Regions from separate parts of the Homo sapiens genome. Here region 2 is linked to region 1. Evidence: fine-mapped expression QTL. A gene starts in region 1. The other region holds a variant in brackets. All regions are shown on one strand. Distances are between the middles of the regions. Region 1 holds the start of UBXN7 (UBX domain protein 7). Region 2 overlaps UBXN7 (UBX domain protein 7).

Evidence for each region. PIP is the estimated chance that this variant, and not a neighbour inherited with it, causes the effect.
Region 2: its variant is fine-mapped to the expression of UBXN7 in whole blood (TOPMed, PIP above 0.99).

Annotation. Positions count from the first base shown.
Region 1 is chr3:196,428,564-196,437,857 of GRCh38, reverse strand. It overlaps UBXN7 (UBX domain protein 7), which reads left to right and starts at 5,431. Exons shown (of 11, transcript NM_015562.2): 1 at 5,431-5,531. The coding sequence starts at 5,459. UBXN7-AS1 (UBXN7 antisense RNA 1) reads right to left here and starts at 6,473. Exons shown (of 2, transcript NR_046745.1): 1 at 6,417-6,473; 2 at 4,824-5,656. RefSeq lists enhancers at 5,114-5,193, 5,126-5,899, 6,274-6,323, 5,900-6,674 and silencers at 5,234-5,483, 5,504-5,563.
Region 2 is chr3:196,345,701-196,354,994 of GRCh38, reverse strand. UBXN7 (UBX domain protein 7) reads left to right here. Exons shown (of 11, transcript NM_015562.2): 11 at 1-7,333. Among named protein-coding and RNA genes, the nearest start is that of TM4SF19-DYNLT2B, 12 kb to the right of the region's middle. The variant G/T (reference allele first, on the strand shown) is at 3,717.

The sequences.
Region 1 (9,294 bases):
TGGTTAGAACCTCTAGAATAATATTGAGTAGACGTAATAATAGAACGCATTATTGTTACTGACTTTAAATGTCTAATTATTAACTAGGATGCTGTTTACTCTGCATTTTTGGTAGATACATTTTATTAGATTAAGGAAGTTTCTTTATGTAGTTTGTTAAGGTTTTTAAAACATTTTGTGAATGGATGTGCATTTATATCAATGGTTTTCCTGTGTCTGATCAAATGAATCAAATAATTTCTCTTATTTAATTTGTTTTACTATGGTGAATTACATTGACAGAGGTGTTTTTTTTTTTTTTTTCTGGAGTTTCTGGTGTCCAGGCTGGAGTGTGCAGGGTGCAATTATAGCTCATTCAGCTTCAAACTCCTAGACAATTGGGCTCCAGTGGTCCTCCTACCTCAGCCTCCTAGGTAGCTGGGATTACAGGGGCGAGCAACTGTGCCATTTGTAAGAGCTTTTTACTGTAAAATTATGCTTGCATTCCTGAAGTAAACCCAATAAAAAAAATATGTACATGTATGTGTGAATATGTGGATTTCTAAATTCTGATTTAATTTAAGATATCTGTTTCAGTAGCCATGAGTGAGGATGAATTCTCATTTATTATTTTGTTTGATTTGATTTCAAGGTTATGCTACCCTTATAGAATGAGCTGTTTGTTCCCATTGTTCTTTATCTGGAAGCATTTGTATAAGTTTGGGATAATCTGTTTCTTAACTTTTTTGGTAGCAATCTCCTGTAAAATCACTGGGGTGTGGTCATTTGTGTGGCAGATTTCATTTTGTTAATGGTCATAAGTCTATGCATAGTTGAGTTCCATTTTGTTAATTATTTCTTCTAGGAAACTGTCATTTATCTATTTCCTAATTCATCAGCATAAAATTATTCATAATATTCTCTTATTTTTCAAGCCACGGCTATGTCTGCTATGTCTTTTTTTCATAATATTGTTTGTGTCTTTCTCTTTGTTCTTAATCTGTCAAAGGTTTTATTATTATTTATTTTTTTATTTTTTGAGATGGAGTCTCACTCTGTCACCCAGGCGGGAGTGCAATGGCACAATCTCGGCTCACTGCAACCTCTGTCTCCTGGGTTCAAGTGATTCTACTGTCTCAGCCTCCCAAGTAGCTGGGATTACAGGCGCCCGCCACCACGTCCAGCTAATTTTTGTATTTTTAGTAGAGACGGGGTTTCACCATGTTGGCCAGGCTGGTCTGGAACTCCTGACCTCAGGTGATCCACCCACCTCGGCCTCCCAAAGTGCTGGGCCTACAGGTGTGAGCCACCACACCTGGCCTGTCAAAGGTTTTACATATTGTTATTTCAGAGAACCAGCTTTTGGTTTTATGAATCCTCTCTTCTGTATTTTGTATTCTATTTTGTCAATTTCTGCTCTTTAGCATTTTTTCTTCACATTTTTCCTTGTCTGCTGAGTTGTTGTTCCTTTATTAACTTCTTGATGAAATGCTGAGCTACTTATTTTCCAGTCTTCTTCTCTAATATAACCAGTTAAGCTTATATATTCTCCTTTAGCTTCTGTTAAAACTCCATCAGTTTCGGGCCAGGCTCTGTGGCTCACCCTGTAATCCCAGCACTTTGGGAGGCTGAGACAGGTGGATCACTTGATGTCAGGAGTTCAAGACCAGCCTGACCAACATGGTGAAACCTTGTCTCTACTAAAAATACAAAAATTAGCTGGGCATGGTGGCCTGCTCCTGTAATCCCAGCTACTTGGGAGGCTGAGGCAGGAGAATCGCTTGAACCCAGGAGGCAGAGGCTGCAGTGAGCCAAGATCCTGCCACTGCACTCCAGCCTGGGCGACAGAGAGAGACCCTGTCTCAAAAAACAAAACAAGATGAAACAAAAAAGACCCAAACAAACCAAAAAGCTCCTCAAGTTTTGGAATGTATTTCCATGACCATTCCATTTTACATTTGTGTCCATCAATTTCCTCTTTTCCATCCTGCTCTCTGCCCCGGGGCTGCCTGTGGGAACTACAAGGGGCTTCTTGCTGTGCCCTCTGTCTTCCATTTGGGTTCAGCCATTGGGGATTCCTGGCAGGAGACAGAAGAGGAGATCGAGGTCAGGGTATCTATGTCCCTGAGCTCCTCTCTGAGATTGCCTCAAGCTGCTTATTTATGTCCCTTGACAGAAGGTCATTGCTTCTTGCATGGTGGTTTGCTCTGCAAAAAAATCTCACTTGGGATTTCTCTAACTTCTCTCTGTTCTCATCTCTTTGGACGTATGGGTTGTGACAGTTCTACTGTTACTAGTATGAGATCCTCCACTGTTCCTTGTGATTTCCACATATCTTACCCAGGCTGGAGTGCAGTGGTGTCATCATGGCTCACTGCAGCCTCGACCACCTGGGCCCAAGTGATCCTCCCGCCTCAGCCTCCAGAGTAGGTGGGACTACAAGCTTGCACCACCGCACCTGGCTAATTAAACTTTTTTTTTCTTTTTTCAGAGATAGGGTCTCCCTATGTTGCCTAGGCTGGTCTCAAGCTCCTGGGCTCAAGTGATCCTCCTGTCTTGGCCTCCCAAAGTGCTGGGATTACAGGCATGAGCCACGACACCCATCCTTCATATTCATATTCTTTTTTTTTTTTTTTTTTTTTTTTTTTGAGACGGAGTCTCACTCTGTTGCCCAGGCTGGAGTGCAGTAGCTCATTCTTGGCTCACTGCAAACTTCACCTCCCGGGCTCAAGCGATTCTCCTGCTTCAGCCACACGAGTAGCTGGGATTACAGGCACGCACCATCACGCCCAGCTAATTTTGTATTTTTAGTAAAGATGGTGTTTCACCATGTTGGTCAGGCGGGTTTGGAGCTCCTGACCTCAGGTGATCCCCAGCCTCGGCCTCCCAAAGTGCTGGGATTACAGGTGTGAGCCACCGCAACTGGTCAGTCCTTCATATTCTTTAATAATCCAAAAAAGCTTTTCAAGGTTGTATTATTCATTACTTCTTTATTTATTTTTCCCAGTTCCCTGGTTATCCATGGAAACTGTCTCATTTTCTTCCCTTCTTTCCCCCCCTCCCCCCGACCATGGAATCTTTTTGGCCACCTGTCTAATTTTCTTTTATCTTATTTTTTAATTTCTAAAAAAATGCCTTCTGGAGTTGTGGATGCCACAGACTTTATCACCTTTTCCTGCACTGTTAATCAAAATCATATCATTAAATCTGAATTATAAGATTTTGGAAATAAACCTGATAAACCTGCAGAGCTCATTACTGGCCTCTCCATCTGATGGAGGTACAGTAATCACTGTGTTTAGTTTTTGTAGTTAATGGTGTTATACCATTTTACGTGGAGCTTGATTTTGCATGGCTGGCTAGTGACTCAGCCTTTAGGATGAAGGGAGACAGAGGTAACACTTTCTTGATTTGGCTTTCTTCCCTTGCCTGTTTTTGCACCTCTGCATCAAATGTGAAGGAATCAGCTGCCGAAATTTATGACTGATCCCTGCCCTTCCTCAGCCCATCTAGAGAACTGCAGCAACCTGGAAGGCAGTGCCAGGACCAATCTGTCATTTAACTTAAAATACATTTTTTTTTTTGAGACGGAGTCTTGCTCTGTCACCCAGGCTGGAGCACAGTGGCATGATCTCGGCTCACTGCAACCTCTGCCTCCCGGGTTCAAGTGATTCTCCTGCCTCAGCCTCCCAAGTAGCTGGGATTACAGGTGCCCGCGCCACCACAGCAGCTAATTTTTGTATTTTTAGTAGAGATGGGGTTTCGCCATGTTGACCAGGCTGGTCTGGAACTCCTGACCTCGGGCGATCCGCCCGCCTCGGCCTCCCAAAGTGCTGGGATTACTGGAGTCTGCTTTCTTTTACATCAATCATATCTTCTTGAAACTACAGCCCGACTGGGTGTGGTGGCTCACGCCTGTAATCCCAACACTTTGGGAGGCCGAGGCGGGTGGATCACTTGAGGTCAGTAGTTTGAGACTAGCCTGCTCAACATGGTGAAACCTCGTCTCTATTAAAAATACAAAAATTAGCCAGGCGTGGTGGCGTGTGCCTGTAATCCCAGCTACTTGGGAGGCTGAGGCAGGAGAATCGCTTGAACCCGGGAGGCGGAGCTTTCAGTAAACTGAGATTGCACCACTGCACTCCAGCCTGGGCGACAGAGCGAGACTCCCTGTCAAACAAAACAAAACAAAAAACTATACCCCTTGATTTGACATGGCTCTTTCTTAATTCTCCCCAATAGCATGTTTACTCTTAGGATGTGTCAATTCTTCAGACAGCTCATCCCATCTTTTATTGGGCCATTTTCCTATGAAGATGCAAAATATGTGGGTGGAGGTTGGAAGGTGGGAGGCTAAAACAAACGGAATCACTTGGAATCTCTTTTAACTTTATGGGCAAGGTGGGGGATTATTGGATTTGAGCGCACCCCACTCATGTAACTGTTTTGCAAAATACTTAAAATTATTCAAGGAACACACGAATATCTTTTTTTTTTTTTTTTTTTTGAGATGGATTCTTGATATATTTCCCAGTCTGGTCTCGAACTCCTTGCCTCAAGCGATTCTCCCACCTCGGCCTTCCAAAGTGCTGGGATTACAGTCATGAGCCACCGCGCCCGGCCAATAATGTTTGTTTAAAAATAAAAAGATAAATAAGAAACTCGAAGTAAGGTCCGCTTTGACCATCGTCCCGATCGTTCTCTTCTCTGGAGGTAACCGTTACCAGCGTTTTGAGCACACTTTTCCAGTCTCCTTTCTATATGTTTTCTTTCCTCTACTGCATATACAGAGTTTCTTTTTATACAAATGACGCCTCTTGGGGTCTCATTAAGACCCTAACGGGAGACGTGATGGCCAATTTATTTAAGGAAAGCAGACTAAACAATCGTTTATGAAAACCTACTGGGTGGCAACCCCGCGCTAAGTGCTTTCTTTGGCATGAAGGGTTCTGGTATTTCACTCGTCGCAATCGGTTAGCTAAGCCATTAGTTTAGAGGCTGGGGGGCGAGTACGGGGAGAGTCGCTTCAAAGCGAGGAGGTAGGGTTTGCATTTTGATGGGACCTGCAGGAAACCTAATAGAGTGCGGTACAACCGCAAAACAGAAAAATGCTGTCATCGGCAGTTGGCTCTGTCAATAAAGCTTGCGAAGCTGAAATGCGAAGAACTATCTGCCGAGACCGAAGCTTCCTTCGGAATCTAGGAATCGACACCGCGCCTGCGAGGCTAGCCTTGGAGCCCGGAGAGGAAGGCACCAGCAATGGCAAAAAGGATGCACTGAGCAGGCAGCAACCGAGCAGCCAACCCGAGAGCTGGGAGCGCGCGGGCCCGGTCGGAAAATGCGCCTGCGCAGACCGCTGGGGACGGGAGGGGCGGGGCTCGAGGGGCGGTCAATGCGCCTGCGCACACCGCACGGCGAAGTGGGGGAGGGCAGTCCGTGTGTGTCTGTGTTGTTGTTCGGCGGCGGCGGCGGCGGTAAGATGGCTGCCCACGGGGGCTCCGCGGCGTCCTCGGCGCTGAAGGGGTTAATTCAACAGTTCACCACCATTACCGGTAAGAGACGCGGTTACCGGAAGGTGGAGAGTGGGGTCCGGAGCGGGCAGCGGGTCTGCCCCGGGCTTCCCCTTACCTTCAGGCATTCCTCCTTCGGGCTTTACCCACAGCTGCCGTCCTCCCTCCTGAGGAAGAGGCGACGACGGCGTCGGGGTCTCCGGGTTCAGGCGGGAGACAGCCCCCCCCCGCTCCCGATACCCTCGTTCTCTGTCTCCTAGTAGCGTGGAGGGAGATCCCCCAACCCCCCGCCAGCCCAGACCTGGGAATGGGCCGAGTCCGTCCGCCCCCGCCGGCCCGGGGACCCGGGGGCGGGAGGAGTAGGGGGCCGCACCCGGGCCACCGCCCTCCTCCTCCTCCTTCATCATCTTCCCTTCTCTGTGCAGCCCTGCGGTGCGGTGCATCTCCTCACCTCCTTTTTTCCTTTCTTCCCCGGCCAGGTCATTCTGCCCCGGTCCCCGGCCTGCCCTTCCCCTTTCTGGGCCCCTCGGAGCCATCGCCGTGGCCCTGGCGGGTTCGGGCCCTCCCGCCTTCACGGCAAGGCCGGTGGGTTCGGCCGTGCCTTTACACTTCACGGGGGACAGGCCGCCAGAAGCGGGGGGTGCTGAGGAGGACCTCAGGGACTGAGGCTTTGAGGGAAGAATGAGGGGGAACCCCCAAGCTGAATAGGGGAGGCCTGGAAGAATCCAGGGTGGCGTTTCCCACCTCCCCATAATAAAATCATAAAGACGGAGACGATGGCGCCGGGGCCTCCTGCTGATAAGATAGGGATGGCGGCAGAAACTTCTTTGAGAGAAAATCTGTTTCTGGGTGTCGGTATCCCCGAAACCCTAGGCCTAGGTTCTCTCCCTTTGGACCCCTGCGAAGGACACACGCAGATCCTCTTACCGCCTGGAGGAAAGGCCCTAAAGCCATTCTATGAATTCTCTCTGTCTTGTTTCTCTCTGATGGTGCTGAACTTTTCTTGCATGAGTTATTAGAGGGCGGAGCAAATGATGAAGTTCTCTGTGGAGTGATTTGAGAGAAGAGTACTCCAATGTGCCTGAGTGTAATTTTGCCGTTCTAGTTTGTCGTTTTGGAAGGAGGTCAGAATGTTAGTTCCCTCTCAACGGATCTATACTTTATCTCGTAATTTGTTAGATGCGGAGAATGTTTCCACTGTTAATGTTCCTAGAGTTTAACGTGCAATATCTGGTTAAGTAAAATTTTATATTGTTTTAACTACTACAGGTTGTATACTAGTTACCGTTTTATATTAAAGCAAGTTTTATTTTTTTGCTTTGCAATGATAACGAGATATTTGACGCATTGTTATCTAGCTTGTGGGCATGGAACATCAGGTCAAAGTAAAGTAAAATTTGCAATAAAATTGGGGTGAGGAGTTGCATGATAACTTCTCTTAATATTTTTGAACTTTGTGATTGGATTATTGAAGATATAAAGGATTGGATTATTATATTAAATATGTAAAGGATTTCCTAATGTCTGACAAATCATTGCTATGGAGAAGATTATTGTGTATATAAGTTAGTGTTGCTGCATTATGCTTATATAGAAAAATCTTTGCAGTGAATCTGATAGAGAAGTGAATATCATTATTAATCCTTTAGATTTCCTAGAGATGGTTTATGATGCCACTTGGGCCTGGCGCGGTGTCTCACGCCTGTAATCCTAGCAGTTTGGGAGACGGAGGCTGGAGATTCACATGGGGCGAGGAGTTGCAGACCAGCCTGGGCAAAACATAGTGAGGCCCCATCTCTACAGAAATAAGAAAATGAGCTGGATGTAGTGGCACCGACATGTAGTCCCAGCTACTGGGGAGGCTGAGGTGGGAGGATTGCTTGAGCCTAGGAGTTCAAGGCTGCGGTGAGTAGATCATACCACTGCGCTCCATCCCTGGCAACAGAGCAAGATCATTTCTCAAAAAGAAAAAAAAAGCCACTTATTATTATTATTATTATTATTATTTTGAGACAGTCTCGCTGTGTTGCCCAGGTTGGAGTGCAGATCTCCCAGGCACGATCTTGGCTCACTGCAACCTCCACCTCCCGGGTTCAAGCGATTCTCCTGTCTCAGCCTCCCGAGTAGCTGGGACTACAAGCGCCTGTCACCAGGCCCGGCTAATTTTTGTATTTTTAGTAGAGGCGGGGTTTCATCATGTTGGCCTGGCTGGTCTTGAACTCCTGTCCTCAAATGATCCACTCACCTCAGCCTCCCAAAGTGCTAGGATTACAGGCGTGAGCCACCGCGCCTGGCCCTAAAAGCCACTTAATTAATTTTCAGTTTCTTATGCTAATTACTACTCTTCCCAAACTCTGATTGGTTTAACGCCACATTACTTCTTCTGTTGCAACATTTTTATTAGGTACACACAAAAACCGAAGTGTGGTGAGTTGAATTGACTCACTTAATTGCTTTAATTCTGTTTCTGTTCGTCTACGTAGCTTGATTGCTGGATCAAGTTGGAGTCCCTCAATCAGTAGACAGTGGTATCTGGAGATCTACAGAGCGAAAATACCTTTGAGTGTTCTTCAAATATTGTGAATTTCTATTGATAATTTTTGGGATTCTTTTTACAAGATAGTGATTAACCGTTAGAAACACATGATTGATTTCTTTTTGCCTTTTTTACATGTCTTAAAATTTTTTTGGGGTTCTCTCCACATACGTTTTAATCGTAGTGTTTATAATTAAAAGGTATTTTATATTTATTTTAGTGACCTTAATAGCTTATGCTCTGATTTCACAAAGGTTTTACTTGGAAGCTCAATATTCTTGTAAAAACAAATGCATCATCAAAAATGTGAGTCCTTACTTTTTAGGCAGGAGCAAAAAAAAGAAAAAGAAAAAATAAAAATAAATGTGAGTCTTATCTTTTTTTGGCATTTAGAAATAGAACGGAAAATTGAAAGATTTTAGAAAAGTCTTATTTCTTACTGAATAGAACAGATCTCTCTCTGATTCAGTGAGTATGAAATAATGACTGATGTTTTTTTTTTTTTTGAGACGGAGTCTCGCTCTGTCACCCAGGCTGGAGTGCAGTGGCGTGATGTTGGCTCACTGCAAGCTCTGCCTCCCAGGTTCACACCATTCTCGTGCCTCAGCCTCCCAAGTAGCTGGGACCACAGGCGCCTGCCACCACGCCTGGCTAATTTTTTGTATTTTTAGTAGAGACGGGGTTTCACCGTGTTATCTGGGATGGTCTCGATCTCCTGACCTCGTGATCCGCCTGCCTCGGCCTCCCAAAGTGCTGGGATTACACGTGTGAGCCACCGCGCCTGGCCTAATGACGGATTTTTGATTTTTTTTTTTTTTTTTTAAGAGATGGAGGTCTCCTCTCTTTGTTGCCCAAGCTGTTCTCCAGTTTCTGGGCTCAGCCATCCTCTTGCCTCAGCCCTCCCAGTAACTGGGGCTACAGGTGCACATCACTGTGCCTGGTTCAGTAATGGCTGATTAAAAAAGATTATTAAAAAGACAATATCATAAAAACTTTTTTTTTTTTTTTTGAGACGGACTGGGTCTCACACTGCCACCCAGACTAGAGTGCAGTGGTGTGATCACGGCTCACTGCAGCCTCTAGGGTAACTTTCTTTATTTTTTGTGGAGATGGGGTCTCACTTTGTTGTGCAGGCTGGTCTTGAACTCCTGGGCTCAAGCAATCCACCCACCTTGGCCTCCCAAAGTGCTGGGATTACAGGCGTGGGACACTGCACCTGGCCGAAATAATTTTGATAAAAGGGAAAAGAACTAATTCTCCTTCTCACAA
Region 2 (9,294 bases), 83 kb after region 1:
ATGAGTTTTATATCTCCTCAAGGAAATCATGGAAAAATCTGTTTATTCTTCAGTGAGTCCTTTTGAATTAATGTTCTTAAATTTTTTTCTAAGTCTGTGTAAGTGCTTATGTATAAGTATATAATTGTATAAATATTTATAAATATATTTATATAATTACGGTTTCATTTCTACCTTGAGTCAAAGTTCTGTCTTTAGATTGGTGACTGAGTAATACTTACACTTTGGTGTTTTTTCTTAGGTTCTTGAGGCTTACTTAACTAGCAGCTTCTGATTTATTGAGTGAAAGATGGTTTTCATGTTAATTCCTCAGTTGCATCTCTGAACTTGGATAACATACTTGCCGTTTGAAAAATAGAGCTGTATACTGTCAAAGGTGCACTGGAGGGTAAAACATTTGTTGGTAGTAGACAAGCTCAGAAATCCAAAAATTCAGGGAGGGCACAGGGTAAGAAGAGAGGTTTGCTCAGCTTTGTGCTCTGATGGCACCCATCTGTACTCCAGCAAAGTCATAGCTGAAGCCCAAATCGCTCAAACGTGTGAAGTCAATCATTTTTCCTATAGGGCTCTGTTTCCTTTTCTTTACCTTCTAGCTTCTCTTGATAAAACAGTTGGGAGAACTGCCAACGTGTTCATCAGTGAGAGGGTGTGGTTCTTTCCGATATGTTCAGCACGTGCATATTCATTTATGAGAAACCAAAGTAACTTCTTCAACTCGGGTTACTGTGGGATGATTAAGTAGATATAAAGTGATTTAAAAGACAGCATGGTACTTTCACTCAGCTTAACATGCAGCTGGGATGTCTACAATACAAGATGTGGTGGGTTTTATTTTATTTTATTTTGAGGCAGGAGTGTAATTATCTTAGGGTTGATATAAAGGCCCATGGGAAGAGTTACGGATTGTACATGGGAAGAATCCATAAGGAGTATTGCCTTGCTCAAGAATTTAATCCGCTGACAGTATGCTTCTTCCAGTTTGCCTTACTTCCTCTGCAAGTTTCTTTGCTCCTTAGGGCAGAGGTTTTATTGAATAGATTAAATGAGGTCAGTAAGATTAGTTAAAAATAGTCATTCCTTGTGGGTGTTGGACACAGCTTGAAAGGAGTGTTTAAAAAAAAAAAGCTAGGGAGGAAAAGAACAAGAAAGATAGACTTCGAGAGTGATAAGAGAAAAATACAGGGAGATGGAATGGAAACTACCAGGAAGGCCGGGCGCGGTGGCTCATGCCTGTAATCCCAACACTTTGGGAGGCGGAGGTGGGCAGATCACCTAAGGTCAGGAGATCGAGGCCAGCCTGAGCAACATGGTGAAACCCCGTCTCTACTAAAAATACAAAAATTACCTGGGTGTGGTGGCGTGCACCTGTAATCCCAGCTACTCAGAGGCTGAGGCAGGGGAATGGCTTGAACCTGGGAGGCAGAGGTTGCAGTGAGCCAAGATCGCACCATTACACTCCAGCCTGGGCGACAAAGCGACACTCCATCTCAAATTTAAAAAAAAAAAAGAAGAAGAAGAAGAAAACTAGTGGGAAAAAAGTGAGAGGAATACTTTTTTGAAATTGGTATCGGAAGGAACTGGAGAAGAGAAAACAACAGTGCCAAATGAGAAAAGAACAGGAAACTTAATACTAATTGGCATGCACCAGATACTTTTGTGTACATTTGCCTCTTCAATCTCCCGAAGAATCGTACAAAATGTATACTTTCTTCCCATGTTAAGAAAACAGGTATAGAGAACTTATTCAGGACTCATAGCTAGTGAGTGGCAAATCAGAATTGGAATCCAGAGTCCATGCTGTGGTCTCCTTCAGCAAGAGAATCAAGCTACCCAGATGATTCTCTTCTCATTGTTTGGCTTTGTAAAGTGTCACTTAGTTTTGTTCCCATAAATATAGAGGAAGTAGTTGGGTTAAAGTTGTGGGATTTGCACTATGCCTATACATTTTTATTTATGCCATTATTTTGAGAGGCTGATTATTGCTTTTTTAAAATGATGCACTGGTGAAGATGTGAAAGTAAAATTGCCACGTGGCATTATTTGCCAAGAATAAATGAAAAGGGTAAAAAAACAATTTTTTCTTTTTTTAAACATTTTTCAGAAAAGATACAATTACCTTTTTTAATAGGTGAGCGCCACCACGCCCGGCTAATTTTTGCATTTTTAGTAGAGACAGGGTTTCACCATGTTGGCCAGGATGGTCTCGATCTCTTGATCTCGTGTTCCGCCCACCTCGGCCTCCTAAAGTGCTGGGATTACAGGCATGAGCCACTGCGCCCGATCTACAATTCTGTTTTCTGTGTCCCATCCATACCAGATTATTGAACCCTCTGTGTGTATGTTTTTAAATCTTGTATATAATTCTACTTCCTTGACTTACAAGTCAACAATTAGCTATTGAGTTCTTTATAGAAGTTGGAAGTATTTTGAAATCTGAGATCTAATTCCTGGCCAGGTGTGGTGGCTCATGCCTGTAATCCCAATATTTTGGGAGGCCGAGGTGGGTGGATCACCTGAGGTTGGGAGTTCGAGATCAGCCTGGCCAACATGGTGAAACCCCATCTCTACTGAAAAATACAAAAATTAGCCAGGCATGGTGGCTGTCTGTAATCCCAGCTAATGGGGAGGCTGAGGCACAAGAATCTCTTGAACCTGGGAGGCGGAGGTTGCAGTGAGCCGAGATCACACCACTGCACTCCATCCTGGGCAATGGAGCGAGACTCTGTCTCAAAAAATAATAAATAAGATATGATTCCTGCCTGTTTTATCCAGTTAGAGAGACACACTACACATGAAATAATTGGAGAGCATGTAAATGTTTACCTATTAGTTCAAACTTAGAAAAAGGGAAGAATATGTTTTAGTTAGCAAAGTCTTAAACAAGACTGAAGTGGCAAGCACTGTAGCTCACGTTTTCTTTTGACTCACCTTTTTCTTTAGCTCCACCTTTTGTAACTTCTAGATTTGGGGCATGAAGTTCTGCCACTAAGGCATAACCAGTACCCAAGTAGGAAAGGATTATTGATCCCTGGAGTAAAGATTCCTAGCTTGCGGGGATCTCACTATTGATCCCCCGGAGTAAAGATTCCTAGCTCGCAGGAATCTTACTTGCACACTTAGGGAAAATACCAGAGGGAGCCACTAGCAACCGAAAAATGAAGGAAAGATTTAATTTCTCTACCCAGGTACAAATCCAATGCATAGTATAGTATATGTTATATGCAGAAAGGGCACTGGAGGTGTGAGAGCCCTTTGGGTAACAGCTCTGCTAGTTGTTACCTTCACACTTCTCTTTCTTCTTAATCTCTGGTTTCTCGTCTGAAAAATGAGATAATTGGACTAGATTAATAGTTCTCAGCCTTTTCTAGAACAACAAATTAGATTATCTCTGAAGTCCTTTTCCAAAATTTCATGCTTCCAGTCTCTCCCCGTGATTGCGTATTATCCCTAGGCTAATTAAAAGTGTGCTGGTTAATCAGTTTCTTTACTTTTTTTTTCTCTCTTTTTTTTATTCTGTGTTCAGGTATCATTTGACCAACAACTTGCTCTTAATCTTACTGCGATGACTGAAATCTCCAAAGAGGAGAGTATAGTAGTTATAGGTCTAGTAATAATAATCTTGTAAACAATTCATTATTTTTTAAAACTTAATGCTGTGTGCCTAATCAGTGTTGAGTATGACTAAAATGTAAATGAGAACCAAATATGACACTAAC[G/T]CTGGCACTAAATTTTATTTTTACTTGTGTACTTAAAGTACTTTACTGGCCTGTTGGGAAATTGATTTGTATAAGATTCACACCTGGTTTTGGCAGAAACAGCTTTTTAAAGATACAATTAGGCTGACTTAAAAATGTTTTTTATTCCACAGAATGTATCTTTATTATGTCATTCTTACCGTCTCTCTGCCTTTTTTGACCATCATGTAACTACGCAGTAGTAAATCATGGGGTGCAGGCTGATGAATTAGTAGTCTTTGTAAAACTAAAATGTAATGAGCATAGGAAGAGACAGCTCTTCTGGTGAACATGGCAGTTTTCCGGTAATACCAGCCTTGATGAATAGGCTAAAGACAGCTGTGTACTATGGACATTCAACTTCACTGGATTGCCTGGCTTAGCTTTTCAGTTATTGTCTTGCCGTGAAACATGGTGTTGCACTGTACACATTTTAGAATAGTGGCAAGAATGTTCTTTAGAACTGCAGATAACCCAACAGAGAATACCATACCAATATATCGGTTTCTCCTGTTACATAGAGATTTGGTATTTCAGTGATGGTTATGGTTTTTGACTCACCTGTGTGTCAGTCCTGCTAGAGAGACAGTATAGAATCAAGAATTTCTTGATGTCTTTTTAAAAATAGAGATTATAATGGCCTTGCTAGTTGTCCTGTGAAGTGACAGACCCTTAATTAGAAATCTTTTAATCCTGCTTTCCATTTTACTTCTCCACCATTTATTTTTAACATTCATTCTCTGAAAATAGTTATGATTTTTAGTGTAATTGGCTATGTTTAAGAAATTCCATTTCAAAGTCTTAATATGTAACAATCTTCATTTTTTATAAAATTGAAGGACATTTTTGAGGCAAACTTACTTTTATAGCTCATTTTCTCCCTAGTTAAGGAGAATTCTCTGGTTTCATATAGAGAATGGCTAGCTCTGTGATACCCCACCCTCTTTGTGGCCTACCAGTTGCTGTTGTGTTGCTTAAAATTGCAGATATTCTCATAAACATGATGATTTTTGGCACAGGCCTTTCTTTGCTATTGATTTCAAAATAAAGTTGGGCAATCCAATTTGAACTACTTTAATAAACATAATTTAGCATTCCTGTAATGAGAAAGTATTTTCAAAAGATAACCAGATTTATTTCTAGGATTAGAGATGGCAAATACCAATGATAGTATTTTTCCCAAGAGCAATCACAGATTAATCTATAAATATGAGAAGTCGCATTATTGTACTTAATTCTTTGGCAACAAACAGCAAGTTTTTATTGTTTAATTGTATTTCCTCTCTAGAGATCACAATACTCTGGGTATTTTATATCCCTTCTAAAGGTCATTTGGGTTTTCAAATGGGAAGAATAGTCAAGCTAAGCTGGACTAAACCTAAGTAATATTTTTTCTCATCAAAAGAAGTTATTAATCTAACTGGGTTAGCATGAGTCATTCATTTTTTAGACATGATAAATGGGAAACATATCAAATCATTAGATAAATTCTGACCTGGAATTGAATTCCCCCTTTCTTAAAATCTTTTTAATTTGCTTTTTTCATAGACTCAGTATGGAACTCTTAACTGATAAGGGAGAGATTCTTGATCTGGAACCGTTCCCTGCCATTCTCCTTTTTTCTCTCTATCTAGGTAGCTGGTTCCATAGTGCCCGTCACGAGGGTCCATTTCAGTTTGATGACATTAGACTGCTTACACTCAGCTGGATGCCTTGCTGTTTGCAGCAACATGATTTTACAGTATGCTTTTCTCAAAGCTTTGCATTCTTAATGGAGATATCAAATGGTGTAATTCCAAATATAAATATGTTTATGACACTAATCATATGCTTTTAACAATAACTTTTTGATAACTTATTGCCCTGTAAGTTAAACCTTACACGGAGTGACTGTTGCCATCAGAAAATCCCCTTTCACCTGCTAGAGAGAGTGAAAGTAGTGCGTGGCCTCCACTTTTCAGTTAACGAGTAGCAAGCTTCTAGTAGGGGCTGCTTATCTGACCCATGTGGGGTCTTGGGCCTTGTTACTTTCCTGGGTTCGTCCCTTCAGCTGGAAAGGCTGTTGAAAACACTTGCCAGGAAACAGTAAAGCTGTGAGAGAATCTTCTAGTCTTAGATATAGAGAAATGAGTACCAGTTGATGCTAACACGATACTTAGACTTTGAGGGGCTTCCATCCAAGCTTTGGCATGAATCTGTTAGACACGGTTTTCTTCACTCCTCTGATAATCTTTTTTTCCAGAATGGTTTTTTGTTGTTGTTGTTGTTAACAAATTCTAAACATCCAGTGTTACTTTTTGTTTTGTTTGTTTTGTTTTGTTTTGTTTTGTTTTGTTTGCCCTTCAGGAAAGTCCTTTTTCGAGTAGGTATTGATTGTTCCCTGGAAACTCTCAGCAGTGTCTGTGCAGGCTCTGTGCATGCTTTGTATGAGTTCGGCTTGAACAATGCATTTGAAGTCACCTGGGATGTCCAGTTCTGGCATGTCTTCATTGATTGTGTTTTTAAACATGTTTCATGTTTCATGTCATTTTCCAAACCTCACTTTACATCTTACTCAGAGAAGTTAATCAAGGAATGAAATTTCTAGGGGGATAGGGATGATGAGGGTGGGTTGGGGGCTTGAGTGAAGTCAACTTGGGGTATTTGCTTTAAAGTGTTTTCTAAAGCAGTTCCTAACAGTATTTAGAGATTCCCTGGGATGTTTGTGGCTCAACTTATTCTGGACAAAGTGTGTGTGGGGGTGGTCTTACTGAGATTTGCATTCTTAATGCAGGACAGGCTCTAAATTTCATCTGTACTCTAAATTTGTGATTGAATCCAAGAAGATAACAGAGACAGTGCTCCTGTTGTAATGTTTCTGGCAAGTGCTCCCTAAAATGCACATCGAATTCTGTTTTCTGGGCCTTTTCTCCAATGGTGCTAGGAGATACCGTTGATTTCTGCAGCTCTTCTCAGTGGTGGGAAGAAGTCTTTGGGATTGTTGAGCAAGGGGCAGCTGGACCATCCACTAAATTTTTTTGTTCAAGACACATTAGAGACCCTCCTGTATATCTAGTAAGTCATAATAAAGGTGCTTGGGAAAGCCTTAAATTTGAAGACACATGGAGGCGGTAGAAAATTAAACTTGTAAGAGGAGAAAAACATGCCATTAGGTAACGCAGAGTTGTAACTACTGGCTAAGACTCAATGGAACTTCCACTTGCTCTAAAACCAGGGAAATCTTAGATAACTGGGTGTGATCTACCTATAGATCTACCTAGTCTATAGGTAATAATTTCCAGAAGGAGGATCTTGCTGTCAGTTGGGGATCCTCTGGTTTGGTCTGTACCAAATTGTGAATACTCTTGCTGTGTTGTACCCAGTTGCTTTATATTAATACTGCAACTTGAAACGGGGAGGGTGGGGGGACAATGGGGTGGGGGAGGGAAGGGAGTGGGACGATAAGTCTTTTGAAGACATCAGCTCACTGTGCTGAGAGAGGGACCAAACTCAAGGAAACCTCTGATCTATACATTCAACTGCTGCATTTTTTTATAAATACATGTAAATGTCCTGTTGTAATATTTGATCTTGGAAATAAAAACAAAAACTTTTCAGTATTAGTTTTTTTTGTGTTGTTGTTTTTACAAGATAAGACTCTGGATATTACTTTCAGTAATACAATTGAGATTCCAAAAGCTTGCCCCCTCACGTTCTCATTTAGGTCAGTTACTATTGATTGACAAAGGTTACTTTGTAGTCCCGTTGTTATGTGTAACGTTTGCTAGCCTTTTTTCTGCTCTTTGTGGTATGTCAAACATTCATGGTAAACACTCTGTAAATATTAGTCCAGTTGTTACAGAAACATTGGGTAAGCTAGGCTTGTTAGGTAAGTATGATTCTGTGTTTGACATACTTGGGCGAATATTCAGTGTCTGTTCTTTCAGACCAGCAGTAATTACTAATGGTTAATTAAGGACTTAGCTTAATTGAAGGAAAGATAATTACTAAATTAATGGGCAAAAAGGAGATACGATTATATGGTATGACAGAAATTGTTATTGCTGCTGGATGCAGTGGCTCATGCATGTAATCCCAGCCCTTTGGGAGGCTGAGATGGGCGGATCACCTGAGGTCAGGAGTTCGAGACCAGCCTGGCCAACATGGTGAAACCCCGTCTCTACTAAAAATACAAACATTAGCTGGGTGTGGTGGCGGCCGCCTGTAATCCCAGCTACTTGGGAGGCTGAGACAGGAGAATCGCTTGAACCCAGGAGGCAGAGGTTGCAGTGAGCCGAGATCGTGCCACTGCACTGCAGCCTGGGCGACAAGAGTGAAACTCTGTCTCAAAAAAAAAAAAAAGAAAAAAGCCGGGCGTGGTGGCAGTGCCTATAATCCCATCTACTCGGGAGGCTGAGGCAGGAGACTTGCTTGAACCTGGGAAGTGGAGGGTGCAGTGAGCCGAGATAGCATCCAGCCTGGGTGACAGAGTGACTCCATCTCAAAAAAAAAAAAAAAAAAAAAAAAAAAGGGACTGCTGCTTAGCTCACAGTTCTACAGTGATGGGTTTGTGCCCCCCCTTTTCTTGTGGAACCATTTCTCATCCCCATGCTCCAGCCTCATGTGCCAAATAATAGGGATGTATGTGATGGGGAGCAAAACAGATACAGCCTCTGCCCTCAAGGAACTTACTTTCTAGTTGGAAACAGACGATAAACATACATGGAAAAACAGATCTGATTCTAATAGAATGAAAAAAAAAAAATAGAAAAGGAGCCAGTAGAGAATTCTTTATTTTTTTAATTTTGAGACAGAGTCTCGCTCTGTTGCCCAGGCTGGAGTGCAGTGATTTGATCACAGCTCACTGGAAGCTCCGCCTCCCAGGTTCAAGCAATTCTCCTGCCTCAGCCTCCCGAGTAGCTGGGACTACAGGTGCCCGCCACCACGCCCGGCTAATTTTTGTGTTTTTAGTAGAGACGGGGTTTCACCATGTTGGCCAGGCTGGTCTCGAATTCCTGACCTCAAGTGATTCACCTGCCTCGGCCTCCCACAGTGCTGGGATCACAGATGTGAGCCACTGCGCCCTGCCTGGTGTTTCTTCTCACTGCCTGCACCTCCTTGATTGGGTCTTTATGGTGGTGATCCCCAGGACCTGGCCCTCTAACTCTCCCTCTGTGATCTCATTCTGATAGTACCAACCGCCATGTATAATGCCAATGATTTCTCACATCTCCAACTCCAGCCCGTCTCTCCTCCAAGCTTCAGACTCACATGTCCGACTTTTTACACTGCGCCTATAGTTGGAAGTATCACACTTACATCTAAGATGACGCCTCCCCACCCAGACCTGCAGTGACACCACTACCTATGAACCTGCCAGAAACTTAAGTCATTTTCTTTTGCTTATTCCCCCATCTCTAATCCAACAGCAAGTCCTTTAACTTCTGCCTCCAAAATGCATAAAAGGTAACCCTACTTTTCAGTCTATTGCCATTACTCTGGTCCAAGTGACCTGCTTTTTATCGTGACCACTGCAGTAGTCTCTGCTCTTACTCTCTTCCGACCCATTCTCCGCATACTG